2 linked regions of the Homo sapiens genome follow. The protein of the gene in region 2 binds, or shares a complex with, the protein of the main gene of each other region. Each region holds a gene or a part of one and is shown on either strand. Other genes may lie near its edges. A codon is read from its position in the direction of its gene.

Region 1 (16,174 bases), on a different chromosome or scaffold from region 2:
CCCTATATAAAGTGATCAGCTACGGTAAGATCACATTCCAGTTTCTTTCTAGGTATAATGTGAGGGGAAAGATGGACTGCCTATACAATTTGCCTCTTGGTTTAAGTATGCAGGCTTCCACAGTTTAGAAAGCATTTTTCAATCATTTTGTCAGACTAAGAAACTTGAGGCCCCAAAAGAGCTATCACCTTGTTCACAGCTATACAGGTATAACTGGCAACTCACATGTAGAAGAATGAAACTGGATCCTCATCTCTTACCTTATACAAAAATCAACTCGAGGCCTGGTGCAGCAGCTCATGCCTGAAATCCCAGCACTTTGGGAGGCTGAGGTGGGTGGATCATCTGAGGTCAGGAGTTTGAGACCAGCCTGGCCAACATGGGTGAAACCCCATCTCTACTAAAAATACAAAAATTAGCCAGAGGTGTGGTGGTGCATGCCTGCAATCCCAGCTACTTGGGAGGCTTGAAGCAGGAGAATCACTTGAGCCCGGGAGGCAGAAGTTGCACTGAGCTGAGATGGAGTACTCTGAGGCTGGGCGACAAAGGGAGACTCCGTCTCAAAAAAAAAAAAAAATCAACTCCAGATGGTTCAAAGACTTAAGTCTAAAACCTGAAACCATAAAAATTCTAGAATATCAGAAAAACCCTTCTAGACATTGGCTTAAGCAAAGACTTCATGACCCAAGAACCCAAAAGTAAATGCAACAAAAACAAAGATAAATAGATGGGACTTAATTAAAAAGCTTCTGCACAGCAAAAGAAACAGTCAGCAGAGTAAAAAGACAACCCATGGAGTGGGAGAAAATCTTTGCAACCTATACACCCAACAAAAGACTAACATCCAGGATCTACAAGGAACTGAAACAAATCAGCAAGAAAAAAACAGTCCCATCAAAAAGTGCTCTAAGGACATGAATAGACAATTCTCAAAAGAAGATATACAAATGGCCAACAAACATATTAAAAAATGCTCAACATCACCAACGATCACGGAAATGCAAATCAAACCCACAATGTGGTAACACCTTACTCCTGTAAGAATGGCCATAATCAAAAAATCAAAAAATAAAAGATGTTGGCGTGGATGTGGTGATCAGGAACACTTTACACTGCTGGTGGGAATGTAAACTAGTACAACCACTATGGAAAACAGTGTGGAGATTCCTTAAAGAACTAAAAGTAGCACTACCATTTGATCCAGCAGTCCCACTACTGGATATCTACCCAGAGGAAAAGAAATCATTATATGAAAAAGATACTTGTAAACGCACGTTTATAGCAGCACAATTTGCAACTGCAAAACTAATGGAACCAGCCCGAATGCCCATCAATGAGTGGATAAATAAATTGAATTGTGGTATACCTGAGGTCAGGAGTTCAAGACTAGCCTGGCCAATATGGTGAAGCCCCATCTCTACTAAAAATACAAAAACTAGCTGGGCGTGGTGGCGTGTGCCTGTAATCCCAGCTACATGGGAGGCTGAGGCAGGAGGACGGCTTGAACTAGGGAGGCAGAGGTTGCAGTGAGCTGAGATTATGCCACTGCACTCCAGCCTGGGAGACAACGGGAGACTCCATCTCAAAAAAAAAAAAAAAAAGAAAGAAATTGTGGTATATATACATCCAGGGAATACTACTCAGCCATAAGAAGGAACGAAATAATGGCATTTGCAGCAACTGGAATACCATTATTCTAAGTGAACTCACTCAGGAATGGAAAACCAAACATCATACGTTCTCACTCGTACATGGGAGCTAAGCTATGAGAATGCAAAGGCGTAAGAATGATACAACGGACTCTGGGGACTCAGGGAAAAGGTGGGGGGGCGGTGAGGGATAAAAGACTACACATTGGGTACGGTGTACACCGCTCAGATGACAGGTGCACCAAAATCTTAGAAATCACCACTAAAGAACTTATTCACGTAACCAACCACCACCTGTTCCCTAAAAACCTCCTGAAATAACAAATACCAAAAGTGCAAAAATACCCATTTCACAGCATGAGTTCCAGAGCTGCTCCAGTTTAGTCAACCAGTGTAAGTATCATGCATCCTTGAAGATTATCTATGTAGACCAAAACGGAGCCTGGTCTTGCCTAGCATAAAGTCTAGGATGACTAATACCAGTGTTGATCATAATCCTGAAGGACACAATCCCAAACACCATAACCCCAAATGTTGAAGTCCCAAAAGATCAAAATCCTTAAAATCACAACCTGGACAAAATAAAATTTCAAATTCTGGGGAAAGGATTAGTATGTTTTTCGTTGTAAACAAGACAGTTGCATCATGTTATACAGAAGTATTACCTTGTTATTGTCTTAAGTATGGTTTAGACACATAAGGGTGCCAAGTTGCCAATGAGCAGAATTGTGGACTTAATTTTAGGTGTCAATTTTACTGGATTAAGGAGTATTTAGAAACCTGGTAAAGCATTATCTGGGTGTGTCTGTGAGGTTGTTTCCGGGGATTAGTTTGTAAGTCTGAGTGGACTGAGTGGGGAAGATCTGCCTTCAATGTTGGTGGGTACCATCCAACAGGCGGGGGCCCAGAGAGAACAAATACAGAAGGCAAATTGGTCTCTAAGAGGTAGGATAGATTTTTCTTCTTTTTTAAGATTGAGTTTTGCTCTTGTTGCCCAGGCTGGAGTGCAATGGCTCCATCTCAGCTCACGACAACCTCCGCCTCCCGGGTTCAAGCTATTCTCTGCCTCAGCCTCCCAAGTAGCTGGGAGTACAGGCAAGCGCCACCACGCCTGGCTAATTTTGTATTTGTAGTAGAGATGGGGTTTCTCCATTTTGGTCAGGCTGGTCTTGAGCTCCCGACCTCAGGTGATCTGCCCGCCTCAGCATCCCAAAGTGCTGGGATTACAGGCATGAGCCACCATGCCCAGCCTAGGACAGATTTTTCTTCTGGTGCCTTGGACATTAAAAATTTGACTCCATGACCGCAATGTTGACTCTGTGTGTAAGCATTATATGTGTGCATAAAAATGTTGAAAGTTCCTCAATAAACGAAGAGACATCTGTTTTTTGTACACGTGCATTTGTGAAGGATAAAATTTCTCAAGACCTCGTCTCTTTGGGAGACAATGCAGTGGTAACGCAACAGTTTTTGAACCATCTCATCAAGACTTAGGTTTTCTGTCACAGTATTACAGATGACCAGTTATATAAAGCTAGGTGCCCACAATTACCAAGCATAGTGACAAAGCATTTATACATTTCACTTTTTGACCTATTTCTTTATGAATGTTTCATCTGCTCATCACCGTTATATCCGTGCAACTGTCATTGGTATACCTGAGTGTTTATCTTGCAAAAATGTTACTATTCCCTATTTTATCGTGTAGTGGCCTATGAAACGTTCTGTTGTGTTGTTTCTCAAATAAATACGCTTTTAAAAATGTAAGTAAATTTTCGAAGAATGTTTAGTATTTCTTCCAGAATTGTATTTTGGGATTTTGACCTTTTGGGATTGTGATTTTCAGAATTTTAGACTTTAGGGATTTTGATCTTTGGAGATTACAGTATTTTATTCAAAATTACGGTGTTCAGGACTGTCTTTTGAGATTATGTCCCAAAGCCAATCAACATATATTTAATTTAGTAATTTATTTTCTCTGCACTACTCTCTCTCTGGGTAAGGCATCACTGTACTGACCCTAGAAGCACTAAGTGATTACTGTTGAAGAGGATAGTCTATTTTCTGTTTGGAAAAAAAAAAAATTCAATACTAAAATTTTATATTAACAAAAAGTTTTTTTTTTTTAATCAAAGTACATAAAATAAAGGTGGACACAACTGTAAGTGATCACCAACCAGGGGATGTTTGGGATTTTTAGATGCATTAAAAGAGAGTATAGAGAATATCCACCTGCAAGTAAGATTGTATTCTTTTGCAACCCTGCGATTTTCAAATGGCACCCCAACACAGTCTTTGGTCAGGATAAGGGATCCTGCAGGCCTAGCCTTACCGTCCACATCAAATATAGGTGGAGGGATGCCATATTCTCCACATTTGGAGCTCTGTCAGGCTGCTCCCTTTCCACCAGTCCTATCCAGTGATACTGCAGACAAAGGGTGAGGCAACAGGAGACATCATACCGATGTTGATCAGGAGAGGAAGAAGGTGCAATCTTACTTCCAGGATTTCACATTTGGAAGAATGCCTTGGGAGTGGTGGGTAGCCCAAGGCTGTTCCCAGGAAAAGAAGCAGGCACAGGGCCCAGGACTCAGGCTCCATTTTGACCCAACGTTTATTGTCCTTTTACAACATGTCATTTTTTGGTTTAGAAACTGCTTGTGATTAGTTTTCCAACATTAACTCAAAAGCATGTAAAATAAATCAACCTACTCTCTATATAAACATCCAGCAACTGTGGCCCCTACCCACCTACCCAGGTTGGATAGGGGGAAGGGAGGGCTCGGGCAGCATTGAGTCAAGTGCAGATGCTTTACTGTGGCAGGTGGCAGTAGTGCCTTGGTTCACACCCCACACAGGTCCCCTGCACTGCCCCAAACTACAACAGAAATGGCATAGGCCCAAGGCCCAATTCCCTGTTGGTAATTCACTCTCCGCCTACCAAATGAAAATCGCTTTTATTTTATCGCTTTTGTTTTGTATTTTTGCAACAGAAACCCCCTGTCCAGAGTCAGACTGTAGCTGAACTGTTCAGACTGGAGAATGGAGCAGGCTGTGGGCGCACCCCTGGTCCCTCTCCTGGGCAAGCGCCCCCACCCCCAGGGAACAAGGTCCAGGCAGGCCAGCTCACTGCACGCTGGCCACCACCACTTAGCCATACAGGTCATCATCATTGTCTTCTGTGTATACACTGCCACCTGTGCCGCCTCCACTGCCCTGACTGGGGCCAGCTCCACCCTGGTTCCCTGAAGGGAATCTGTGTACAAGAGCAAAGCCAAAAAAGAGGGTTAGGACAGGGCCTGTGTAAGATTTCCACAACTACCCCTCTAGCTTCCTTAGGACTCCCATCCCTTTTGGTGTAGGTCCCCAAAGTAACTTAAGCACTGTCTAATGCTCCCAACCAACTTACCTGAAGCTGCCAAAGCCCCGACTCTGCTGAAGGGTCTGGGCAAACATCTCATACTTCCGAATGTCATTGTCACTGACAGAACGGCGCGCAAAGCGCATGGCTTCTTCAAAGTGATCTCGACGGATCTCAGGCACTGGATCATCCTCTTCTACCTCCTATAGTTGGTAAACACAGATCACTAGGGCTAGTTAAAGCCCAGCCTGGATTTCATCCCAGGCCTCCCATTACTGCAGTTTATTGGTCTCCTTGCCCTTCCAATCCAACCTGAGGTAAGATGCTAGGCCATGCTTCCTAAAATTGAGTCACTGCTCTGCTTAAAAACTTGTCAATGCACTCTGGAAAAGGGAAAACTGTAGGGACAGAAATCACATCAGTGATGGGGCTTAAGGAGGGGAGATGTTGACTGAAGTGGCTAAGGAAACTTTTTGAGATAGTAGAAATTTTAAGTCTCAACTGTGGTAGTAGTTATAGAACTTACACACACTTGTCATAAAGCATGGAAATGGTATATAGAAAGAGTGAATTTTATTGTATTTATATCATACCTTAATAAACCTTAATACTTTAAAAGGAAATGCCAATGGCTTTCAGTGCTTACCACATTTGGATTACATCCTACCTAGCGGTCTCACTTCCAGTGACATATATACTCTTAAATCTACCCAGGGTTTCCCAATGATTGCAATCCTACTACTAGAGCACATTATTTGGGCTGCTTATTCCCTTTATTCAAATTCTACTCTCTTCACAGCCCAGCTCAAAACCTATCTCTTCCATTGAGAGGCCAATTTCTGTGACTTATGTGACTACCTCCTAGGATTAGTTCATCAGTAGTTGTTAAGCTTTTATGGGAGAGAGAAGGGATGTCACAGACCCTTCAAAAGGGAAAGAAAGCCATTTATTTGCTCATTAAGTCCCATGTTTGGAACTTAATGAATTAATTAAGGGTAACACAAGACATAGTGGAAAACAAGTGAGATGACAGAGATCTTACCTTTATGGAACTTACAAACACATGAATTTGCCTTTTCATTTTGGGAGGTCTGTGGACCCTATCCCTTCCCCAACCATCAGGGATAAGTATATGAGTCTCATCTCAGCTCAAAACCTTGCTCTGTGGTTCACGCCTGTAATCCCAGCACTTTGGGAGGCCGAGGTGGGCACATCACAAGGTCAGGAGATCGAGACCATCCTGGCTAACGTGGTGAAACCACGTTTCTACTAAAAAAAAAATACAAAAAACTAGCCGGACATGGTGGCATGTGCCTGTAGTCCCAGCTACTCGGGAGGCTGAGGCAGGAGAATCGCTTGAACCTGGGAGGCAGAAGTTGCAGTGAGCCAAGATCGTGCCACTGCACTCCAGTCTGGGCAACAGAGTGAGACTTCGTCTCAAAAAAAAAACAAAAAACAAAAAACAAAAAAAACCTTGCTGTGTTTGCTGCACTCTCATACTTTGATTTCCCTCATGGAGCTTGGTTCAGACTGAGAATGGAGCCTGACCATCTCTTCTCGGCCTTATTCCAAATTGAATGGATTCACCTCAGCATTCTTTATCTTTGATGCCCTATTAAAATTCTTCTCAGTTAGATGATCTTTCCAACAGCTTCTACTCTCAACTCCAGGGCATGGTGGTGGCTGCTGCCTGGCTCTCCATGATTGGCACATCTGGGGAAAGGATGCAGACTCACCATGGCTGATGGGTTTGTCTGCCTCTCTCGTTCTCGCCTAATCTCACTCTCGATGGATTCACGGATGGCCAGCTTGCAAGCACGCTGGCAAATCTCTGTCAGGTCAGCTCCAGAGAAGCCATTAGTCATTTTAGCCAGGAACTCCAAGTCCACATCCTAAAAGCAGCAGCAGAGGTACCTTAGCATTTAGCCTCTCCTCTCGAGATACGCAGATCTTTGGGCTACCCGAGCACTCCCAACTACAGTTTGCCCCTTCTTTGGCCACCCCATTTTATTCCTGATTCTAGATTATCTTGATATCCTCAAAAATTCTACCTTCCCTTTAGACCAACCCTAACCCCAGTGGAATCTTGTCCAGAAACTAAAGAGCACTCCGTACCAGCCTGAGGACTCATGCAAGTCTCCCACAGCCCATGATCTTGCACCTGCCTTGGCAACTGGGGACTTGCGCAGGTTAGCCTTGAGGATGGCAACACGGGACTTCTCATCAGGAAGTGGGATGTAGATGAGCTGATCAAGACGGCCAGGTCTGAGGATGGCAGGATCAATGATGTCAGGCCGGTTGGTAGCGCCAATGATGAACACATTTTTTTTTGTGGACATGCCATCCATTTCTGTCAGGATCTGGTTGATGACTCGGTCAGCAGCCCCACCACCATCTCCAATGTTACCTCCACGAGCCTTGGCAATCGAATCCAGCTCATCAAAGAATAGCACACAGGGGGCAGCTTGGCGGGCCTGTAGGAGGAATGGATTGATTCAAGCACTAACAAAACTAGATGTCTCTAGGCAAACGTGGTGGCTCACACCTGTATTCCCAGCACTTTGGGAGGCCAAGGTGGGAGGATCACTTGAGGCCAGAAATCCGAAACCAGCATGGGCAACATACTGAGACTTTGTCTCTACAAAAAATAAAAAATTAGCCAGATGTGGTGACGCATGCCTATAGTCCCAGCTACTCAGGAGGCTGAAGTAGGAGAATTGCTTAAGCCCAGGTTTCAAGGTTACAGTGAGCCATGACTGTACCACTGCCCTCCAACCTGGGCAACAGAGCCAGACCCTGTCTCAAGAGAGAGAGAGAGAAAAAAAAAATAACACTAGGTCTCTCAGACCTCAGAAAGAAAATCAAGTGACTTACTGTGCAGTTGAGCAGCCAGCACTAAGAATATTTCAACCCTCTTAAAGAAAAACAGCCTCTATTCCTTGCCCTCAGGCAAATCAATACATAGTTCAGCCTATTGTAGCTCACCTTGTCAAAGATTTCTCTGACATTGGCCTCAGACTCCCCAAACCACATGGTGAGCAGCTCAGGACCCTTGATGGAGATGAAGTTGGCCTGGCATTCATTAGCAATGGCTTTGGCCAACAAAGTTTTCCCACAGCCAGGAGGTCCATAGAACAGAACTCCCTTGGAAGGTGTCATGCCAAACTTCAGGAATTTGTCTGGGTGCTCCACAGGATACTAGGAGGAAAAGGAAAGAGGGTTCAAGGCTACCTCCACATTTTGAAAGAAACCTAACTAAACAGAAGCATCCCCTCCATTATTTCATGGTGTACCCAATGGTATCAGATCCAGGTTCTCTAGAAGAAGACTCCTTAGTGCCTCAAACCTAAGAACAGTAGGTTCCTAAGTCGTGCTCTCACAACTCTTGCAGCAAATGTGTTGACACCCTGAGATCACCCAGATCAATTACAATGTACTGAGACAGTGACTCACCCTGGACCAAGTTGCCCTACCTGGACCAGCTCCTGTAGCTCACGTTTGACATCCTCTAGGCCCCCGATGTCTTCCCAGGTTACCTGTGGCACCTCTACCACGGTTTCCCGCAGTGCTGATGGGTTACTCTGGCTCAAGGCCCACTAGAAAAGGAGGGAAAACTGGGGATGAGACTTATCAAGGGAGGGGTCAAAGCACGTATGTGTGTACCTGAGGCACGGGTGTGGTCCTTACCCGGAAGTCATCCATAGTAACTGCTAGAGAGTTCATGACCTCGGCATCAATGGTCTCATCCTCTAGGTCAATGAGATCCATCTTCTTGCGGATGGCTTGCAGAGCAGCCTCTGAGCACAGGGCTGCTAAGTCAGCACCCACATGCCCGTGAGTCTCATTGGCTACCTGCAGAGAAAGATCTACTTACTATGCTGCCTCAAAGACCCAGCTGCTGCAGGAGGCTCAGAGACAATAGAATCCTTCCCCTGACTGCTATCCCTGGGTCCTCTCATTTCCTTGAATATATACTATCAATACCTTTATGGGCTGGGTTTTAAGTACTTAATTCTGGACTTGGGACCTAGAAATAAGGCTGCTCCAACAATTCTGATTTACTCTAAATGCAGCGTCAACTATGAAAAATGCCAACTCCCATTTCCTGGATTCAATCTCAGATTACTTCCTTTCCCCTGTCCAGAAATCAAAACCCATCTCCTCACATCTTAACCTTATGTCTCTAGCCAGTTCCCAGCAACTGCCTAGAGACACTGTAACGCCTGGTCAGCCATCATCATCACTTCACCTGTTCCAGGTCCACATCATCTGCCAGCTTCATGTTCTTGGTATGGATCTGAAGAATCTCTAAGCGTCCTGTAGCATCAGGAATTCCAATATCTACCTCCCTGTCAAAGCGACCTGTGGGACAGTACACAAACATAAACAGGGCTCATCTCTAGTCCAGAGGTAAGAGACAGGCCTAGGGTGACCAACCATCTCAGCCAGCACAGGATTGTCCTAATGCCAGCACTAAAAAAGTCTCAAGCTCTGGGAAACCTTTCAGTCTCAGGAAAACCAGGGTGGTTGGTCACTCTAGACAGGACGTAGGGTAAAGGAAAAAGACCCCTGGACCCAATCACTGTGAAGGGCTTCAAGAGGATTAGGTGACTTAGATGAAGGAGAGAAGTAGGACCTAAGCAAGGACGGGGTCAAAAGTATCTGGAGTCCTTACCAAATCGCCGTAGAGCTGGGTCAATGCTGTTGGGTCTGTTGGTTGCTGCCATAACAATCACATGTGCCCTCTGCTTTAGGCCATCCATGAGGGTCAACAACTGTGATACAATGCGCCGCTCCACCTCGCCATGAGTCTGCCAGAACAGGATGTCTGGTCAGAAGTGAAGTCAGGGCCTTTCAACCCCCCTCTATCCCCTCAGGTAAGCTCCTACTTTCTCTCTTTTGGGAGCGATGGCATCTAGCTCATCAATGAAGATGATGGCAGGAGCATTCTTCTCAGCCTCCTCAAAGGCTTTACGAAGGTTGCTCTCAGACTCACCAGCCAATTTGCTCATGATCTCAGGACCTGAAAGGATACAGAATGGAGACAATAACAAAATGATAGTCTTTCCCAATTCCTCCCAAAAATCAGTTATCTTGCTTGTTTGGCCCAGAGACAGGTCCTGGGTGAGAAGGTGGTAACCTCTGCCTACTTCTCACATCCTCTACCAGCCATTATCCCAGGACAGCCACCAGGCAAGGCTGGAGAGAAGCCCAGGGACTCACTATACTCTTCTCACAGTTGAACTGTAAAGGTGACAGCAAATGCTCTAGGACCTCTGGCTAGAGCAAGAGAGATGGCACACCAGATGGCACACCACTAAACAGCATTCTCCAAGAGCCAGTGATCAAAGTTCATTTGCCCCAAACCCTCTCAAATCACTAACCATTCACCCTTTGATTTCTCATTCTAGCTTGCTCCCGCTCTGCAGTCTGTCCACAATCTTTCTCAAAGGGGGCAGGACAGGGAGCACCAATGTAAAATATCTTCCCTTTATTGCTCTTCTGTCTGTAACATACCCCAGCATAAGAAATATGCTATAAACATGAAGGAGGGCATGGGTGCAAAAAGGATGTGTTCATAAGTGCTCCAGCTCATAAGCCCAGTTCAAAATTGGGTCTAGCTAGACATAAGATGAACCAAATATCTCACCATTGATCAAGAAGAAGAAGGCTCCAGTCTCATTTGCTACAGCTCGAGCAATCAGGGTCTTTCCTGTTCCAGGAGGTCCGTAAAGCAGGATTCCTCTAGGAGGCTGTGGACCAATGCAGAGTGTGATTAGGTTCCCACCTTCTCCCAAACCCTAAAATGGCTTGACTAGCGCTCCAGAGAGGGTGAGAATCAGGCTTCAACCCTGACAATATTAAGAATAAGCCCTCCGCAGTAAATGCTAAGAAGACAATTACTTTAGGCCACACTCATTTCTATTACTAGCAGGGAAAATACTGCTAGAAAGTGGGCAACATTTATGATTGCAACTTGCATAGGAGACTAAGGGCAGAGAAACTGTAGTCCAAATGCGTTTGAAGATACATGACTAGGGAAAGGCAAGAGGCCATTACACTAAGGGCTCAATTTTAGACAGACCAAGGGCCAAAGACTAGCTAAGCCATTTAAGAGAGCAGGGTCTATTTTCTTCATTGCCAGAGGATCACTCACTCCAGTAATCATGCCCTCCAGAATTTATCACACTGGAATGCTGTTCCTTACAATCATCATTTTTCTTCTTCAACACTACCCTTTCTATGGCCTCATCCACAAGCAGAACATGTAAACTGTCCACATAGAAAATGAAATTATTTGTGTGCCACCCACTAGGAAAATGAGTAACTTCATCTTCAGTGTGTTCCATGGAAACACTTTCCCACTAGGAAAAGATTGAGAAGCTACACTCTAGACCAATAGTTCTCAAATGTTTTAGACTCAGAACCCTTTAACACTCTGAAAATTTCCTTAACTTCCTTACTTCTACTGGGTGACATTGCTCTAGACAGGCTGGCAAACTATGGTGAGATTTGTTTTTACAGGGTCCATTGATACAAGAATGGCTTTTATATTCTAAGAGTTGTAAAGAAAAACCCATATATATATGTGTGTGTGTTTTGTGCGCACACGCACACAACAGACAATTTGATTAGCCTACTCTGGTTTTAGACCATCAGCTCTAATGAATTTAGAGCCTTAGGTAAACTAAAGGATACGTTATTGCCCCTCTAATCCAAGGCAATAATGAAAGCCATGCATGAAAACAGTCCCAGGATTAGACATTGGGACAGGATTAGACATTGGCACCACTTTAGACTTGATTCCAGAGCCCAGGATGCTCACCTTCACACCAATTGCCTTAAAGAGGGCAGGATGTCTCAGGGGCAGTTCCACCATCTCCTTTATCTGAGCTAGCTGCTTCCTGCAGCCACCAATGTCATCATACCCTACTTCATTCAAGGACTCTTCCTCATCCTGAATATGGAGGAGATAAAGAAAGGAGAAGGCAAGAATATTATATCAGCAAAAGCTGAGTTTCTCTAAATCATTCCACTACCTAGTGTGCAAAAACCTACCGTATAAGAAGATTCTCAACCCGGCATGGTGGCTCACATCTGTAATCCCAGCACTTTGGGAGGCAGAGGTGGGAGGAATGCTTGAGTCCAGGAGTTCCTGGGCAATACAGCAAGACTCCATCTCATTAAAAATTAAATTAAATTTAAAAAAGATTCTCCTCTAAAGGGATCCGGCCTCAAAGAACAACTACAAAAATCCCAAGGCAAAGATTTCTAGCACAGTCCTTGCCTCTCACATTACTCGTAGTCTTACTGAGAAGGGGTCTCTAAAATCTGAAGCTGGAAACCCTGGGAATGGGCAGAGGCCTGAAGCCACCATCAGCTTTACTTCAAAAATGATTTCAATCACTTATATATTTTGGGTTCAGTCTAGTTTTTTGAAATTCCTGGCATTAGGTAAATCCAAGAAACAATTAGGCCCAGAAATGAATAGCTGGCAGGTTTCTCATCCCTGAAAGATGGTTAGTTCTCCAAAGAACACCCAGTCTTTTTCTTTTTTGAGACAGAGTCTCACTCTGTCACCCAGGCTGGAGTGCAGTGGCACAATCTCAGCTCACTGCAACCTCCGACTCCTGGGTTCAACCGATTCTCCTGCCTCAGCCTCCTGAGTAGCTGGGATTACAGATGTGTACCACCATGCCTGGCTAATTTTTGTATTTTTAGTAGAGATGGGATTTCACCATGTTGCCCAGGCTGGTCTTGAACACCTGACCTCAAGTGATCTGCCCATCTCAGTCTCCCAAAGTACTGGGATTACAGGTGTCAGCCACCGCAGCCGGCCGAGCACCCAGTCCTGACAGTTACCACATGATGCCACACTGAGTAATCATAAAATCGGATACTGGAATCAGGGAGAAAACTCACCTCTCGTTTGATAGGCTCCCCTTCGCAGTGGATCACTGTGTCTGGAGCAACAATGCAATAAGGGCTAGGATCTGTTTCCACCACTTTGAACTCCACAGCACGCATCCCACCACGGACAAGAAAAATGTCTCCTGCGAGAGCAAACAGTACAAGCACAGTTAGAGGTGTCAACTACAAGACAAAGTGAGAACTCATCAGACCCTGGGGTCAAAATGCCAAGCTCATTAGATAGTGCCCTTCATTAGATATTGCCCTACCTCTCCCCAACTCCACCCCACCTGTCTTAATAAGCAGCAGGCAAGATGAGAAAGGTAAACTGTGAAGAGTCCCTCTGACAAGAGGTCAGTGAACAAAACCTGACATGTCAGAAGCCCATCAAGTTCTGACTTCTGCCATATAGGTAGCCCAAGTTTTCACTACAACCACCAATGGTAGAACTGTGCACTCTGGACCCTGACCCAGCCAAAATGGACCACTTTCTCCTTCAGAGATCCATAAAGATAGCTTACTCTCCTGGAACAGAGAAGGGGAGAGATGGAGCAAAGGAAGGATGGAGGAAAAAAAGAGGGTAAGACATATGAATATGTGTGCAGGGTTTGCATGTGTGTGTATACAAATATATGAAAATGAGTCTAGCGGCCGGGCACAGTGGCTCACCTGAGGTCAAGAGTTCGAGACGAGCCTGACCAACATGGTGAAACCCCGTCTCTACTAAAAACACAAAAATTAGCCGGGCGTGGTGGCAGACGCCTGTAATCCCAGCTACTTGGGAGGCTGAGGCAGGAGAATTGCTTGAACCCAGGAGGCGGAGGTTGCAGTGAGCCGAGATTGCACCACTGCGCTCCAGCCTGGGGGACAGCGCGACACTCTGTCTCAAAAAAAAAAGAAAAGAAAATGAGACTAGGCTTGATGGCTCATGCCTGTAATCCCAGCACTTTGGGAGGCCATGGCAGATGGATCACTTGAGCCCAGCAGTTTGAGACCAGCCTGGGCATCATAGTGAGACCCTGTCTCTTTTTTTTTTTTTTTGAGACAGAGTCTTGCTCTGTCACCCAGGCTGCAGTACTGTGGCCCAATCTTGGCTCACTGCAACCTCCACCTCTTGGGTTCAAGCAATTCTCATGCCTCAGCCTCCCAGGTAGCTGGGATTACAGGTGCCCACGATGGGGTTTCGCCATGTTGGCCAGGCTGGTCTCAAACTCCTGGCCTCAAGTGATCCACCCGCCTCAGCCTCCCAAATTGCTGGGATTATAGGTGTGAGCCACGGTGCCCAGCTGACCCCATCTCTTAAAAAATGAATAAATAAATACAGGGGAAAAGCATAAAAGATTTAAAAAAAAAAAAAGAAAAAGAAAATGAGATAAAGATGTTCCAAGGTTTATTCCCTACAGTCAATAATCCTTAAGCTCAGAATTAGCTCTCACCTTTCCGGATGGGTCGATACGCTTCCAGGAAGTACGGCTTAAGGTATACCTCGAAGAGATTACCAGTAATGCCTTCCACTGTGTCATCAATGGGCAGCACATGGATACGTTTGCCGTACTTCACATCAGGGCATGGCTGGATGCTGAGGATGACAAGCAGACTCCATATTACCAACCACACTTCGGGCCCAAGCACTGGGTGTCCAAAAGGGCCTGGCACAGATAGCTGATAGTAAGTGAAAAAGAAAAGGCAGGATGGCTTTAGGCGAAGAGAGGAAGGAGAACAGGGTGGAAGTGAGGGCGAAGGAACAGCCCCACTCACTCCTAATCAGTGAGCCAAAATCAAGAGCCACACATTTAGAAACCCCACAAAGACATGCAGGGTCTTCAGGGAGATATCCAAGGATGATCCCCTTCTAGCTAATACTGGTGACCCAATATTACAAGGGAAGGTCTTAAGCTAACAATTGTCAGGGTCAGTGAAACAGAAGTGAAAAAAACAAAATTATCTCAGCCAGGTGGTCAGAACACCTTGAGGAAGTGACTAAGCACTCCCAAGAAGAAAGCTACATGAAACTTAGACTCCATTCAAAAGAATCAAAAGCCTGAGATGATCCTGGCCAGGTGATGGTTGGTTGGGTAGGAGTGGCTAGAGATGACTCCAAGATGGGGTAACCTCTTGCCTAAAATTATGCAAGAACAAGCAAAATCACTCACATTGAGAGCTATCCCAGGTCTGGCTCCAACTATTCCTCTCTCCCGGGTTAACTTAGGGGCTTAAAAGACCTGCTAGCAGCTCACCTTCCATGCCCATACCCCCACCTCATTCCAACCCCAACACAAGCCATCAATTAGACATACTAGTGAGAGTAGTGAGGAGATTATTTGGCATATACATACACACCCTCGAGTGGTATCCTAAGCCAGGATATAAGTATGATAAATTACACCTCTAGTAGGAAAAAATAAAGCCATCAAGAAAGTTACAGGAACGCCAATTTGTCTCAAGGGACCTGCAGAAATGGATTTTGAAGTCCCAGGGAGGCAGAACCAAAACCTAAAGACAACCCTGAAGCATAAGTCTTCCCATGACCAGGAGGCTTCCTGCATCGACAGGTGCCAAGAACTTGGTCCTGCCTGTAATACATGGGTCCTGCCTGTAATGCAGGCTATCTCTGGCCTCCCATCCCTGTGAAGCCAAAAACCCCACACACACCTGATGACATCCCCTAGGCGTACACGAAGGTTATTCCGAACAACTCTATTCATCCGAATCTTCTCATCAGAACAAGTATCATCAGAAAGGACGATGCAAACAGCTTCTCGTCTCTTCTTTCCTTTCAGCAACACTGTGTCACCTCGGAACAACTGCAATTCATCCATCTTGGGCTGAGGAAAGAAAGTTAAGGCCTTTGGGTCATTGGGCTGACGGGGAGTAAGCAGCAGCCCTGGAGATTGGGATTCCCAGTAAACCCCACTCTATCTGCAGTCACTGCAAGAAAAATGAGAAAAGAAACCTGGGAAAATCCCTCAAGTAAGTGCAGTAAGGAAAGACTAGTCTGTGGCCACAGCTTACCTGGGACAAGGACACCACACTGTTGTCCTCATTGATGGCTTCATCAACAATTAACCGATTGGGACGGTTCTTCTGTTTGAGAATGGCTGTTGATAGGTCATCACCTTTTGAACTAGAAGGAGGAAATGGAGTCAGTAGATACTCCTGCCCCAAGCGCCTCGCCAGTCTCTAAAACTCATACTTAGGAAAGAAACAGTGAATAGATGAAGCTGTCCCTAGACCAGAAAGCTCAGATGAAGGA
Region 2 (16,174 bases):
TTAATTAAAAACTTTACAGAGGATTATAGAAATTATTAGCCTTTATGACAATATTGGTCACATATATATTCACATCATTGATCAGGGACACTCTTAAGGGGCAAACACTAATACAGGATATAGAAATAAATTATTTAGGCAGATAGTGAGGGCAAAAGAGTCCTCAACAGAACTTCCCTTTTAACAAAAAGCAGCCCTAGAAATCATTTCTTTTCCAACAAAGAGCAGCCTGAAAGATCGAGCTGCAAACATAGGTAAGGAAGCTGGAAGATTGCACGGGAGGAGGCCTGCAGCTGTGCCAATAGAAAAGGGTTACCTGGGGGCCAGACATGTCCACCATGGAAACTCCATCTTCCCTTTTTTGTTAGCATGTGTACAGTAAGAAAGAAATGGGCAACATGGAGAAGCTCAGGCAGAGAACCCACCTGCATAATAGAAGATTGGGGTGGGGGCTGCCAGAGATTTATACCCTATGCAGATGGCACACCTGTTCCTAACTGGCTTTTTGCACCCTATGTACATCAGCACTACTCCCGCCCCACTAGCTGATCTATAAAACTCCCTACATTTCACTGCGGATCAGCAACCAATTTTTCCAGGACCCCTCTTGGTAGCAGAGATCTTCTCTTTCTTTTGCCTACTAAACTTCAGCTCTTAACCTGTGTGTCCGCATTTTTGATCTCTGTGGCTGTGAGACAACGAACCTCGGGTGTCGCCCCAGACAAGGCCGCTTCAACATGATGCACTTTTTAACAATAGACGTTGCATGAACCCCAAATACCTGAGACAGGTCTCGATTTAGGAAGTTTATTTTGCCAAGGTTAAGGATGCACAGGTGTGACACAGCCTCAGGACGTCCTGATGACATGAGCCCAAGGTGGTTGGGGCACAGCTTGGTTTTATACATTTTAGGGAGACATAAGACATCAATCAATATATGTAAGATGGACATTGGATCAATATGGAAAGGTAGGACAACTCGAAGTGTGGGAGAGGACTTCCAGGGCACAGGTAGGTAAGAGACAAATGGTTGCATTCTTTTGAGTTTCTGATGAGCCCTTCCAAAGGAGGCAATCAGACAGGCCTTTATCTCAGTGAGCAGAGATAACTGAATAGAATGAATGGGAGGCAGGTTTGCACTAAGCAGTTTCCAGCTTGACTTTTCCCTTTAGCTTAGTGATTCTGGGGTCCCAAGATTTGCTTTCCTTTCACAGTTGTGACAAGGTTTTCAGAAATCCATTGTGGCAAAAAAGAAGCACCTGAACCTTTTTATTTGGGTAGAATAAAAACAGAAACAGTAACAGGATATTCAGATAATATGCTACAACCAGTTCCTTCCCTGTCCCTGACAAAGGTGCGCCAAGGGAAATTAAACCACAGGAAATGTTATTCATGTTAAAACAATCTATTCAGGACTCAAAACTACAAATCAAAGAAAATTTGAAAAACCTTTCCAATAAGTTTCAGTGAAAACATTCTTTATTAGTAAGCAGACATTTCAAACTTTTTGATTACATACATCATGCAAAATGACTGACCTCACAGATGGTTGTCTGTTCATTGTGACATCTTTTTTGAGATGATTATAAATTTAAGATGACTGCAGTAGTAAAAATAATTCATGAAAATGACTCTCAATGAAGCAAAACACTACATAGCACACATGAAATACTGTTCATCCCTCCTGGATGTTTAATTCTCTCCTAATGTAAATCTCTATCTTGGAAGACTATTATATACAAAAATGGCAGTTGTTTTTGTATGTGCATCTATAGGCACTCAACTGATAAAAACAAGAAAATTTCAAATAATTTTACAAGGATTGGTTATTTTTCCTGTTTTGTTAATCCAAAACAGGACAATGCCCTTTGATTTACAATGTTCAATTCTTTTAAGAAATCATTTTCTTCGGAAGATGATTTTGACCCATGAAAAAGTTGTTTTACCCCTGGTAATCTTTTTGAAATGGGGCTGGCTGTTACACATTATCCAAGTTGTTTTCAGTAAGTGAAAAGGAGTAGGGCTTATTTTGAGAATTCCTCTATATTACGGCACTGAGAAAACTTCTCTGCAGTGGTGGGCTCACCACTTTCATCCTGTGGTAGTTCTGGTAGCACTCCCAGTGTGAAAACCCTAGCACAGGTAAATTCACCTCTTTGAAATAAACAGTGACCCTGGAGAAAGGTGAATTCCAAATCTAGTACCATATTCAAGTCATCTGGCAGAGAAGCAGGCATAAAAGAGTTTTCTAGGTACTTGAGGTGCTGCTGTAACAAATACCTAAAAGTAGAAAAGTGGCTCTGGAATTGGGCAGTAGGTGGAGGCTGGAAGAATTCTGAGGAGCATGCCAGAAAAGAAGCTAAACTGCCTTAAACAGACTGTTAGTAGAAATATGGAATGTTAATGCTAGGGCGGCCTTGAAGAAAGGAGCATAATAGAGAATACCTCGATTGCCATAGAATATCTAAATCATCATGAATAGACTGTTGGTAAAAAATGAGGAATATGTTACTGGAGAAGTGGAGGAAAGGAGTCCTTGTTACATAGTGGCGAAAAGCTAAGCTGAGTTGTGTCCTGCCGTTATGTGTAAAGCAGAACTTTTAAGTGATGACTTCAATATTTAGCTGAGGATATTTCCAAGCAAGCTGTGGAAGGTACAGCCTGCTGTCTTCTTGCTGATTATAGTAAAATGTGGAAAGAGGTAGATTGAGGGAAGACCTGTTAAATATAAAGAAACCAGGACTTGATGATTTGGGAAATTCGCGGCCTATTCAAATGGCAAAAGCCACTAAAACTAAGATTCACCGTCAGGACAGCCTTTACTCTAGAGAAAGTGATGAAGATATGGCTGTATAACCTTTTGCTAATACTTCAGAAACATCAAAAGGTCTGAATATCAGGTCACACACAAGACTCTTTGAAGATATTAAGGGTGTGAATCATAGATCCTCTCAGCTATTTCAGAAAAAGCCAAAAACAGAGACAGGATTTTCCAGGAAAGATACGTGAGGAGCCTCCTATCTAAATGAGTGCATCCCTGTGACATATGTAAAAGACCCACAAGTTTCTTGACAACGTTATAGCAGCAGAAGCACCACCATTTTTAACAGAAAGCTTTAGAGAATATAAAAGAAGAACAAACTGATAAGTTGATACTCAGCTGCAAACGTGTGCTACCTTTTGTGAAAAAGTAAAGATGACTCTGAGACAGTCAACAAGCCCAGAGAACAGCAGTGAGCTGAAGATTACTCCCAGGCCTTGAAACTTAAAGAAGGGTGCCTCGCTGGTTTTGTAAATTGATTGGTGCTGATGGCTCCTTTTTCCATCTGTTTCTGCTTTTTGAACAGGAACGTGTGTAACTATTATTGTCTGCCTGTCATGCCATCATACTTGGGAACAGATAACTTGTTTTCTAGGTTCACAAGTGCACAGTTGGAATTATGTCCCAGAAATCACACACAGATCCTCTCCCAAACTTAATTTAGATGGCTTCAATGTGAGATTTGAGACTTTTGAGTTGGTGAGACTCAGATAAGATTTTGGATTTAGAGTTGATGCTGTAATAATGGATTGTGACTTTTGAGCACCTATGAGTGATGTAAATTTATTTGTGATGAATCTGAATCTTTAACACAGGAGTGGAGCGGGGGGTGGGTGGGAACTGTAGTAGGCAAGAATAATGTTCCATGTAAAATGTTAATGTCCTAATCTCCAAACCTGTATGTAACCTTAGATGGTAAAAGAGATTTTGCAGATGTAATTAAGGTTACTATGGATTTCAAGACAAGGAGATAAGCCTAGATTGGATATCCGGTGGGCCTCATTTAATCATGAGTCCTGCAGAGAACCTCTCCACACTGGTGTCAGAGAGATGTGGTAACAGAAGGGTCATAGAGATGAAACAGCACTGGTTTTTAAGATGGAAGAAGGAGGTCACAAGCCAAGGAATGAGGATGTCCTGTAGAAGGTGGAATGACAAGGAAATGATTCTCCTGTAGAGCCTCCTAACAGAATGCAACCCTGCCAACAAATTGATCTTGGCACCGCGAAACTCTTAACCTGGACTCCTAACCTACAGAATTGTGAAGATAATAAATTTGTGCTATTTTAAGCCACATTTTGTAACTTGTTATGGTGGCAATGGAAAACTAACCAGAAGTAATAATTAAGGATGAAATGGTGTCTAGGAAGAAGGAAAAGCTTCTGGCTTCAGCAGAAATGCAAACATTTATGCTGGTAATTCTTTAGATCTAGTCCGTCTGACAGAATTTACATTCCTGTATTTCTACACTAGTCTTGTTCTGGAGAAGACATTCTAGGTTGAGCACACAGAATAGTGTTTAGTGTATACAGTGAGTTTCCTAGAAAAATGTGTTGAATGAATAAATGAATGTGATCAACGCAAGCTCTGGGAGGAACTGTAATTACTTGATTTTAAAATATTGTTGCTGTTTACCATATCTTCTTAAGAACTGCTGACCTTTAGGCTGGGCGTGGTGGCTCATGCCTGTAATCCCAGCACTTTGGGAGGCTGAGGTGGGTGGATCACCTGAGGTTCGGAGTTCGAGACCAGCCTGATCAACACAGAGAAACGCTGTCTCTAGCAAAAGTACAAAAATTAGCCAGGCATGGTGGCGCATGCCTGTAATCCCAGCTACTTGGGAGGCTAAGGCAGGAGAATCTTTTGAACCTGGGAGGCGGAGGTTGCGGTGAGCAGAAATTATGCCATTGCACTCCAGCCTGGGCAACAAGAGCAAAACTCCATATCAAAAAAAAAAAAAAAAAGAATTGCTGACCTTTATGTGTTTCTGTTTAAGTTCACAACAGTCATAATTCTGTAAAATACAAGGCAAAACTGTAGTTTCTGATACTAGTAATATATCTAAATCAGTAAGTAAAAAGGATGTGTAAAATCTTAATAGGAGAAATAATTATTGTATGATCAAACAATTTCAAAATCAAAAGACACGTTTCAGTATATATTATAGACAAATTTTCAACTTATTTGATCAAAAGATTTCTTAATGGCTGTTGGTCAATGCTGCATCAAGAAACTTTAGTGCAAATTTTACCAAATGCATTTATCAAAAAGGGGTTTTGTTCATTTTTCTCTGCAAACAAATGTTGTTACATTAACACTAAGCATGTAACAACTCATTTGCCTAGAAATCCAAAAACTATCAACATAAGCCAGTCCTTCAACTAAAAACTCAAACATACTTATCTCAAGGTCTATTCCTAATCCAAATTTGTCTATATTCAGATTGGAAGACAGAATAACAATAAAACCAAAATTTATCTGTAAAAATAATAAAAATAATTTGGCTGTTTTTAATGCTGAAGTATTGTCCTTATTAATACGGCACATCATCTATTCCCACATGCTACTGCATGGACAGGAACAATATTATTTTAGTTGCTGGAGTAACACAGTGTTAAGAATATCTGCTTCTAGCAGTGTCAGGCTTTCATCTGTTAGCTCTTTATTCGGAAATGAAGTCACAAGAATAAAGTCAAGAGCCGCAAATTCAGGACGAGACTGTACAATAAAGTTCCGGACATCCAGGATCCTGAAGAAATAAGACAAAAATAATTTGTAATATAAAAAATCATATTTTCATGTAAACTTAAAACTGAATCATAATAAAAATCACAAAATTTTAATCTTTATATAAAGGTGTTGTAACTTTCTTTAATATATAGTATTTCAATTGAAGGATTTATCTTAGGCTTCAGTTAAAATGTAAAGTAACTTTAGTGTGTACTTAACATTTACTTTTCCTGTAAAATGGAAACAATCTTCAGGTAAGTTATGAATAAAGTAAGTGTACTAATGTTGTTATTTTAAAAGTGCAGGTCCAGCTGGGCACGGTGGCTTACGCCTGTAATTCCAGCACTTTGGGAGGCAGAGGTGGGCAGATCACTTGAGGCCAGGAGTTCAAGATTAGCCTGGCTAACACGGTGAAAACCCCGTCTCTACTAAAACCAGAAAAAATTAGCTGGGCATGGTGGTGGCTGTCTGTAATCCCAGCTACTCAAGAGGCTGAGCATGAGAATTGCTTGAATCTGGAAGGCGGAGTTTGTAGTGGGCTGAGATTCCGCCACTGCACTCCAGCCTGGGAGACAGAGTAAGACTCTGTCTCAAAAAAAAAAAAAAAAAAAAAAAAAAAAAAAAAAAATGCAGGTTGTACTTTTTTCGGAGTATAAAATGTGTTAGCAGCATATGACCCAGAAAAAGGTAACTATGATTGGCCTGTGGCAAGGTGAGTCTAAAACTATGAAATGTGCTATCATAGGAATAATTTTAAAAAATTACTCTCACATAAACATAGTAATTCAACCAAAATCATAAATATATCTATTAGGGTCTTACTTCAATGGACAAATCAAATGTTGATGTACAAGTCAATATTAAAGAAACATTTAAAACTATCTGAAGTTCTTGACAAAAGTACAATTAAACTTGATTTACAATACACATTTATATTATGAAGTATTTGCTATACAGAAAATTAATCCCAATCAAAATTATCACAAATTTTTAAATGAATAAAGTCCCCAAAAGGTTTTACTATGTTAAATTAAATCTGATTCGACTTCATATAGTTTTAGTAACAACGTAAAACTATAGTTCTTAATTTATTTTTGTGTGATATCTGAGATCACATTAGTATTTGGATAGTTTATAGAGACTGTTTAAATACCACATATTTCATTTCTTAAACACAGCTATTGTCCTTTTAAAAATGTTTCTTCTGTCAAAAACTTACTTCAAAAGTAAACCTAAAGAATATCATATTCTTCATTACTCAAGTCACATACAGTTCTACTTAGATAAGCAATCCAGTGTATATAACAGCAAACAGGACACTGTTGGTAAAGAAGCTTACCTGTGTGTACTATTGAATCTTTGTATCAAACGACTCCCATCTGCTAACCTGATTTGAATTTTTGTTGTTGGCACTGAATCATCAATAAGAACAACTGCATTAAGTATTGATTTATCCTCCTCTTCTGGAGAGGAAGGTGTACTGACTATTTCAGGTGTAAGGCTAAAAAAGAGGAATTAAACACAAATCTGAATGTGTAAAATATATGACAAACTGAAGACAGCGATAAACACTTAGAACATGGCTTCATTTGAGTCTCCTATACTTCTTTCAACCTCTTTCATTATATTAAAGTTATTTTGGATCCTACGATTCTTATTTGGTTTATCTAATCTCTCATAAAAGCCTAACTTTGCATCCTTTCCTCATTTAACTGTTTGCAACTTCATCACTGTTTAGCAAACCAGTTTTATTTAGAAATACGAGCAACTCTGAGTTAGGGTCAAAGAATCATTAAGAGCACAGACAGACATGGTTTCACATCCCAGCCATGTCAACTGTGTAAAGTTGAGTAAGTACATCAATCATTTTGAATCCCAGTTCTATCATTTATAAAGTGAGGGAATAATACTATGTTATGAAGGTATATTATACCAGTAAGTCCTTAATATTGTGCCTAGAACACAGTGTTTCAACGGGTGCCAGCTATTGTGAACATATTATCAGCACTAAATTCATTTAATTTGGACTTGGTTAATATCATTTAAACACATCTGATTCAAGCACTGCTTTGCAAAAGAGAAATAACTTCTAAGTACCATTGAGGAATAAAATGTTATTACATGACAATAAATTCATAATGAAGCTTGATAGAATATCTTACCATTAGAACTTGGTTACTAGTGACCCTGGCATTGCTGTCTTAGCCCCTTCTAACACTAGCAGGATGATCAGCCAGTATATGCCAAAAGTGAATGTCAAAAATAGAGGAGTGCTCTTTTGGTTAAATAATTCAAATAAATTTAGCTCAATTTTCTCAGTCATCTTAAGGAATTTTTGATAGTCTTGAAGTTTTTTCTCTTGAACTCTGAGATTTAGATGGTTTCCTATAGATTATTTTCTTCTGGAAGAAAGACACGCATGTATCTACATATTACTAGTATAAAAGTTCTATGAGCATTTGGGCTTTAGTCCAATCTAAATCATCATGACTCTTACTTCCATTCAAAAAGCTTCTCTCTCAGAGTACACAGTAAAGTGATAAAATTACCTGGTACTAACTGCTGACACTTTCTCTTTCTTTAGCTATTTCCTGATGCTAATTTTAGAACTGATTTGAGGATACATAAAAATATACATAAGGTTAAAATTATGACTTACAATAAATGATCAGATATTAAGGAATTTCTTTTTAATTTGGAATTGAGGGCCTAAGTAATTGCACTGCCAATCTGGTTTACTGTGCCAAGAGTCCAGCGTTCCTTACACAAGGGAGGGGGATGAAAATCCAAGAGAAAAGACATGAGACACTGAATGCAAAGGTCCTCTTTACCTCCGCCTCACTGATAACCAGGTATACACATTATCATCGTCACTACCACCATTACCACCTCTGCCACATGCATTATTTCATTTACATCAGCCTGGGAAGCAGTGTTAACAGCATGGTTCTCAGAGCTGGATTACCTGGTTTCAATCCCAACTCTGCACTTATTCTGTAACACCAGGCAAGTCACTTACCCTTATTGTGCCTGAGAGCCAACAGCAGCAGTGCTGTAAAGATTAAATTAATTAGGACACATAAGCACTTCAAATGGTGCTTTTATATAGTTGGCACTACTAAAAGTTGGCTATTAGCATTATAATTATCCTAACAACAACTCTGGAAAAAAAAAGTTACCCCCAATATTCCTATTGGTAAGTGAGAGAGCTGAGGTTTATATTGGGCTCTTTCTACACACCAAGTTGCCTCCCTATTATTTTTGTAATCTACTGCTTTCTGTTTTAAGGCAGATTCTGACCAGGTATGCTTTTTCTCAAAACAGAAAATGGAGGATGGGGAAGCTAGGTAAGAAAATGTGTGTATGTCACAATGAAACTATTGTATATGGAATAATAACATTTGAGAACTGGAATGGATGGACTTCCAACATAATTTAGGCCAACCATATCATTTTATCTAAAAGAAACCGAGTCACAGAGAGACTAAAAGACATGCTCAGAACCACACAGACAGATAGCTGGACAAGCTGGTAGTGTGGTATTAAAAAACCAGCCTAAAAAGTTATGTTAATTAATTTATTTTATTTATTTATTTTTCTGGGATGCAGTGTTGCTCTGTTGCCCAGGCTGGAGTGCAGTGGTGTGATCTCAGCTCACTGCAACCTCTGCCTCCTGAGTTCAAGTGATTCTCCTGCCTCAGCCTCCCAAGTAGCTGGGATTACAGGTGCCTGTCACCACATGCGGCTAATTTTTTTTTTTTTTTTTTTTGGATTTTTAGTAGAGATGGGGTTTCGCCATGTTGGCCAGGCTGGTCTTGAATTCCTAATCTCAAGTCATCTGCCTGCCTCGGCCTCCCAAAGTGCTGGGATTACAGGTGTGAGCCACTGTGCCCATGCAAGTTATGTTAATTCTAATATTTAGCTGTCAAAATCACATCTGTTTGCTATTTAAAACTTTCTCCCTATCATTCAATTGATCAAGCCATAGTAAAACTTTTACATTAAAAAGAAAATTTTTTAAGAAAGAAAAGAGAAATTAATTGGTACAACAAGGTTTGTAGGCAAATGGCAGGAAAGGATGTAGGTTGTAATTCCCTCAGAGACAGGAGAAACACCCTCTTCTTCAAACTTATGGAGGGAGAGGAGGATGGAAATGACCAGCTTGAAGGCTGGAGGGAAACATAATAAGAATGTGAATTCCCGTCAGGTTCTATTTTCTCAATGAAGCTGGAAGCAAAGAAATTTGCTGAGAGTGAGGGGCAGGGGTCGAGGAGGGGGTTTAGGAAAGCAGCTCAGGCCTGTGAGACTGGCGAGGCACAGCACTGCCTGCTCAGCACAGCTGAGGCTGTCCCCAGAAGTACTGAGTCACACAGGGCTGACAACCCAGTCAGGCTTCAGTCAGCTCACAGCTGTTGAGGAGCTGAGATAAAGTAAGGCTTTGAAGTTTTAGAGAAGACAGCCCTCAGGGTCTAGGGCCCCAGATGAAGTCAAATCTCAGGTAAGTGAGAGTGGCAAGCACAATCTTTTGAAGAGAACAGTAGGACAAACAGGCAGTGACTGTTCTTCTGCAGAAACATCAGCTTCAAATCATGATTTTTATCATTATACACGCCAGCTCAAAAGCCTACCAAGAATGCCTACTCGCTAGTCCTCCCTATTAAAAATGACTCTGTGATTTTGTTAGGCACTACTCTAGCTCACCAAGCTAATTTTTACTCAATAATACAGTTTGTTCTACCATTGCAAATTTGCAGTTTTATATCTATGGTTTGCTTTCTTCTATTATGTGAGGGTACTATGTAACATTTTTACAGCATTTTGGTTTGCACCATAATTGTATATCACATGAAAAGATTTAGTTCCCATCTATGTAACATTCTGTGTGTAATTAGACTGCCATCTATGGAAGACAATAGATTATTTTCATTTCTGTTTTACTTGCTTCTTTTTATTTCCTGCTCAGTAAATAATTGTCTTGAACTCTTGAGAACCAAGCCATTTTAGAAAGTTACTTTCTAAATGAAGGTTAACTATTAAACTTTTAATATATTTCTTAATGTAAATCTTTAATATAAAATGTTCTATGTAATTCTTCACTTTAGAATATATGATATTTGCTTATTCAACATTTGGGTTTGTGAACACATAGGCTCACATCATCATGCTATCTCCTTCTACTAGAAGCTGAAAATTCTAAAGACTCCATCTCCCAGACTCTCTTGCAGCTAGGATTTCATGATTCTACCCTTCCACCAAACAAACATACACTTGTTTGGTGGAAGTAAGCACTGCAAAGTGGAAACTCTGTAGCTCTTGTGGTTACTAAGGTGGTGGAGGCATTTATTTCTTCGATGATGGAATGTTCTAGTATCTAGTCCCTAGTTTCATGGGCACCAAGCACCTGACTAGGGGACATAGTTGTTTTCTCTGGAACACTCTTCCACTGTGTTTGTTTCTCCTGGCTAAGGAAAGCTTGGTTTGCTTGCCTCTTCCAGATATTCTATAAACTACACAAGATCCTGTAAGAAACCTATTACTACCAGCAAGTAGATTCTGTTTTCCATAATCAAAATCTTGATCAATATGGCTAGTAAATTAACATGGCATTATTACCACTGATCTCTGTCACTTTCTTCCATCAGTTTCTCCTTTCTTTTCTGTTATTTTCTCTATTTGCCTTATAAGGAAAATGACTGGCCTTTGTGAATACTATCATCAGATAATATCGTTATTTTCATGAGTTTAATAATCACTGGCTCTTCTTAGCTGCCTTCCCTTTATGCTACCTTCTTCAATTCCAAGTCTAGATTTACTGTAGGTCTACTAACAAGGATGTGCGGTCCAACATTAATTCTTGGTCATACATTTAAATAATAGAGAAGGAATATGTATATATTGAAGAGATGACTAGGCATTTTATCTGCATTCTAATTAAAAATCGTAATCTCAATAAATATTAAGTAAAAATGGGAAGTGATACAAAATTAAGAACATACATACATACTATATATACACATACATACATATATATACACATACATATATATATATATATATATGTTGATCACAACAAGAGGAGTAAAAACATAATATTATACAATTTGAGAGAAGCCTGGCCAGGCATAGTGGCTCATGCCTGTAACCCAGGCACTTTGGCAGGCCAAGGCAGAAGAACAGCTTGAGGCCAGGAATTCAAGACCAGCCTGGGCAACATAGTAAGACACGTGTCTCTACAAAACCTAAAAATGAAAAAAAATGAGCTGCGCTCGGCAGTGCCTATAGTCCCAGTCAGGAGAGTGGGGTAGGAAGCTTGCCTGAGCCCAGGAGGTCAAGGCTGCAGTGAACTATGACTACACCACTGTACTCCAGTCTGGGCAACAGAGCAAGACCCCATCTCAAAAAAAAAAAAAGAGAAAGAAAGAGAAGCCTGACGTGTAAAGAGAGACGAGGGAGAAAATTTCCAAGTAAACCTGTGACCTAAAATTAAAGAGTTTGTGTCCTAAGAAAAACAGGTCAACATAAATTCCTGTATTTCCTTTATGTCCCCAGTGCCAGTCTCTATCAGGAGAAGAGAATACAGAAAGGGAGACTAGAGATAGCAAAGCATAAAGAAGCAATATTGAATTTTTTCCTATCTTGAAAAATAAGGGGAGAATAGACAACCAGTGTACACGAGGCAACTGAAGGGGGCTTGGAAGGGAAGGAATCACATGAAGAGAAGCAAAGGATGCACCAAAGAATACACTGGAAACATTGCCAATGTGGCAATTCCATATCACCTGCAACAATATGTGGACGAGTAGAGGGTAACTTTTACCAACATATTTTAAATTTCTAAGATTACATTAAGCCATGGGTATTATAAAGGAAACCACTCATACATTCTGCCATGTGCGTTGGTTTTTAAATTGTGCTCTTCAAAGTCCTAAGGTTCTTTGGAAATGTCTCAGATACAATGCCTTCTTTCACCGACAATCAGAGGAGCTCAGGTTTTACATATTGCACTTCCATGACTTGAAAAAAGGGTTTGGCTGTTTAAAAACTATTGAAAATCACAAAGCTAAGCACATTGCTCCTGCTGCAAGAGTTTGGTCATTACTGATGGCAGACATGCATGCTTAAGTTGTGATGTAAGGTATCCATTATTTTATCTCATCGACAACCCTTTACAATTCTCTCCTTTGAAACCAGGTAATCTGAAAGAGGCATATAATATAGTGGTGAAAAGCACAAACTCTGTAGTCAGAGTGCCTGGGTTTGAATCCCACATGCTAGTCATTTCTTAGCTCAACAATCTTGGGCAAATTACTGCATCTGCAAAATGAAGTAATAACAGTATCTACATCAAAGAGCTGTTGTAAAGATTAAGTGAGATAACACATGTATACGGCTTAGAGGGCCACAAACATGGTAACTGCAATCTAAGTATTAATTACAGTATTATTAATATCACAATTAATATTATGATATAATGGTATCACATGATATAATATTATGATATAATATTAACAGATGTATATATCTAATGTGCATGGTTCATATTTTTGTTTTTTACTTCATAGGTCATTTTGCTTTTCTTATTCTCAAAGAAAAATTCATGTTCAACAAAGGTATTTTTCTCATTTTAGGATTTTTACCTTCCAAGTTTTTGCCCTTCTCCACTAAAAGCCTTGAACCTCAATCTAGGTTTTATGTATTCTTGATCCTGATGATCCTCCATATCCAAATTCACTTGGCCACCATGAACAAGGCGCTGAAGCTCCAGGGGAATCTCTCTTTTAAAAAGGGGGGAAAAAAGTTATCATTAAGTTTTCCAAGAATTAAACTACACTGTTGAGATTACTGTAATTATTTCATGAGCTACACTGGAAAACAGAATTTTTTGCTTAAATTATAACACAAAAATTTCCATAATGACTGATCAGTCCTTGTAGATCTTTTTTAAAGTCACTTCACATTACTCCTTACTGGTTCTCAACATAGGGATGCTTTGGTTGTCACAATTATCTTGGAGAGCTTCTGGTATTTAGAAAGTTAAATTTTAAGACAGCAATTTATATGTAAATCAGCACTAGAAAATTCCTATGAGGATAAAAAGGTAATGTGGATATTTATTAATAAACTCCTCGGAGAAAGTTCTGAAAATTGATATGGGTGTTTTTGCTTGTTGGGTGTACTAGTCCATTTGCATTGCTATAAGGAAATATCCGAGGCTGGGTAATTTATAAAGCAAAGAGGTTTACTTTGGCTCATGGTTCTGCAGGCTGTAAAAGCAACAAGGCACCAGAATCTGCTTCTGGTGAGACCTCGGGAAACTTACAATCACAGTGGAAGGCAAAAGGGGACCCAGCATATCACATGGCAAGAGCAGAAGCAAGAGGGAGATGGGAGGTTCCAGGCTATTAAACAACCAGCTCTTGAGTGAACTACCGGGGTGAGAACTCATTACCATGGGGATGGCACCAAGTCATTCATGAGGGATCTGCCTCCATGATCCAAAACCTCCCACCAGCCCCACCTCAGTAATGGAGGTCACACTTCAACATGAGATTTGGAGGGGACAAAACATCCAAACCATATCATTCCACCACTGGCCCCCCAAATCTCATGTCCTTCTCACATCACAAAATACAATCATCCCTTCTCAATAGTCCCCCAAAGTTTTAACTCGTTCCAGCATTAACTCAAAAGTCCAAAATCTCATCTGAGATTCAAGCCATCTTCTTTCTACCTATAATCCTGTAAGATAAAAAATTAACTATTTACTTCTAAGATAGAATGGTGGTATAGGCATTGGGTAAACATTCCCATTCCAAAAGAGAGATCTGCCAAAAGAAAGAGGCAACAGGCCCCACAGAAGTCTGAAACCCGGCAGGGCAGACATTAAATCTTAAAGCTCCAAAATAATCCTTGATGCCACGTCCCATATACAGGGCATATTGGTGCAAGAGGTGGGCTTCCAAGGCTTTGGGCAGCTCTGGCCCTGTGGCTTCTCTCATGGGTTGGAGGTGAGGACCTGTGGCTTTTCCAGGCTCAGGTTGCTGGTGGCGCCACCATTCCTGGGTCTGGAGGTGGCACCTCCCTTCCAACAGCTCCACTAGGCAGTGCACCAGTGGGGACTCTGTCTGGGGGCTCCAACCTCACATTTCCCTTTGGCGTGGCCCTCTAAAATCTAGGTGCAGCCTCCCATGCCTCTTTCACTTGTGCATTCTGTGTGCCTGTAGGCTTAACACCATGCGAAAGCCACCAAGGCTTACAGTAGTGGCTTGTGCCCTTCAGAGCGAGTGGAGGCCCAAGCTATACCTGGGGCTTTTTGAGCTGCGGCTGGAGATGCAGCAGCTGGGATGCTGGGAACAGTGTCCAGAGGCTGCACAGGGCAGCTGGGCCCCAAGTTTGGCCTCCAAAACTACACTTTTCTCCTAGGACTCTGGGCCTGTGATGGGGGTTGGGGGGGGGGCTGCCTTAAAGGTCTCTGAAATGCCTTCAAGGCTTTCTTCCCATCATCTTGATTAGTAGCACTAGGCTAGGCTCTCTTCTATTCATGCAAATCTCTCTATCAAGTGGTTGCTCCACAGCCTGCTTGTATTCTTCTCCTGAAAACACTTTCTCCTTCTCTACTACATAGCCAGGATGAGAATTTTCCAAACTTCAACGGGCTCTGCTTCTCTTTTAAATATGAGTTCCAACTTTAAATCATTTATTTGCTCCTATGTCTGACCACAGGTTGTTAGAAGTTGCCACAAAGCCTCTTGAATGTTCTGCTGCTTAGAAATTTCTTCCACCAGGGCCAGGCATGGTGGCTTACGCCTGTAATCCCAGCACTTTGGGAGGCCAAGGCAGGTGGATCATAAGGTCAGGGGTTCAAGATCAGCCTGGCCAAGATGGTGAAACCCATCTCTACTAAATACAAAAATTAGCCAGGCGTGGTGGTGAGCACCTGTAATTCCACCTACTTGGGAGGCTGAGGCAGGAGAATTGCTTGAACCTGGGAGGTGGAGGTTGCAGTGAGCCTAGATCGCGCCACTGCACTCCAGCCTGGGTGACAGAGCATGAATCGTCTCCAAAAAAAAAAAAAAAAAAAAAAAAAAAGAAATTTCTTCCACCAGGTACCCTAGATCATCACTCTTTAGTTCAACCTTCCACAAAGCCTTAGGGTATGGACACAACGCAGACAAGTCCTTTGCTAGGGTGTAACAAGGCTGACCTTTACTCCAGTTCCCAATAACTTCCTCATTTCTATCTGAGAACTCATCAGCCTGGACTTCACTGTCCATATTTCTATCAATACTTTGGTCACAACCACTTGAGAAGTCTCTAAGAAGTACCAAATTTTCCTTTGTCTTCCTATCTTCTTCAAGGACGTCCAAAGTCTTCCAACCACTGCCTATTACCCAGTTCCAAAGATGCTTCCACATCTTCATGTATCTTTAGAGCAATGCCCTACTCCTTGGTACCAATTTTCTGTATTAGTCTGTTTGTACTGCTATAAAGGAATACTTGAGGCTGGGTAATTTATAAAGCAAAAAGGTTTATTTTGGCTCATGGTTCTGCAGGCTGTACAAGTAGCATGGTACCAGATTCTCCTTCTGGTGAAGCCGCAGGGAACTTACAATCATGGTAGAA

The links.
Region 1: the proteins of UBXN2B (region 2) and VCP are in contact, whole or in part, in a cryo-EM structure (PDB 8B5R), measured with the Homo sapiens proteins. Residues at the interface, in NP_001071087.1 of Homo sapiens: Phe215, Ser216, Gly217, Glu218, Gln220, Leu222, Gly223, Leu225 (codon at 7,051); in NP_009057.1 of Homo sapiens: Arg113, His115, Glu132, Leu140, Ile182, His183, Cys184, Glu185, Glu187.

What each region holds. Positions count from the first base shown.
Region 1 is NC_000009.12:35,052,318-35,068,491, forward strand, and holds the end of VCP (transitional endoplasmic reticulum ATPase), read right to left. Parts: intron 16,046-16,174; coding exon 15,934-16,045; intron 15,747-15,933; coding exon 15,574-15,746; intron 14,501-15,573; coding exon 14,358-14,500; intron 13,065-14,357; coding exon 12,934-13,064; intron 11,969-12,933; coding exon 11,837-11,968; intron 10,764-11,836; coding exon 10,661-10,763; intron 10,034-10,660; coding exon 9,900-10,033; intron 9,822-9,899; coding exon 9,686-9,821; intron 9,373-9,685; coding exon 9,260-9,372; intron 8,863-9,259; coding exon 8,698-8,862; intron 8,607-8,697; coding exon 8,484-8,606; intron 8,209-8,483; coding exon 7,996-8,208; intron 7,485-7,995; coding exon 7,176-7,484; intron 6,903-7,175; coding exon 6,747-6,902; intron 5,214-6,746; coding exon 5,059-5,213; intron 4,906-5,058; coding exon 4,800-4,905; 3' UTR 3,747-4,799; downstream 1-3,746. UniProt on the Homo sapiens protein: Necessary for the fragmentation of Golgi stacks during mitosis and for their reassembly after mitosis. Involved in the formation of the transitional endoplasmic reticulum (tER).
Region 2 is NC_000008.11:58,436,785-58,452,958, reverse strand, and holds the end of UBXN2B (UBX domain-containing protein 2B), read right to left. Parts: intron 13,327-16,174; coding exon 13,189-13,326; intron 7,053-13,188; coding exon 6,891-7,052; intron 5,571-6,890; coding exon 5,408-5,570; 3' UTR 1,458-5,407; downstream 1-1,457. UniProt on the Homo sapiens protein: Adapter protein required for Golgi and endoplasmic reticulum biogenesis. Involved in Golgi and endoplasmic reticulum maintenance during interphase and in their reassembly at the end of mitosis.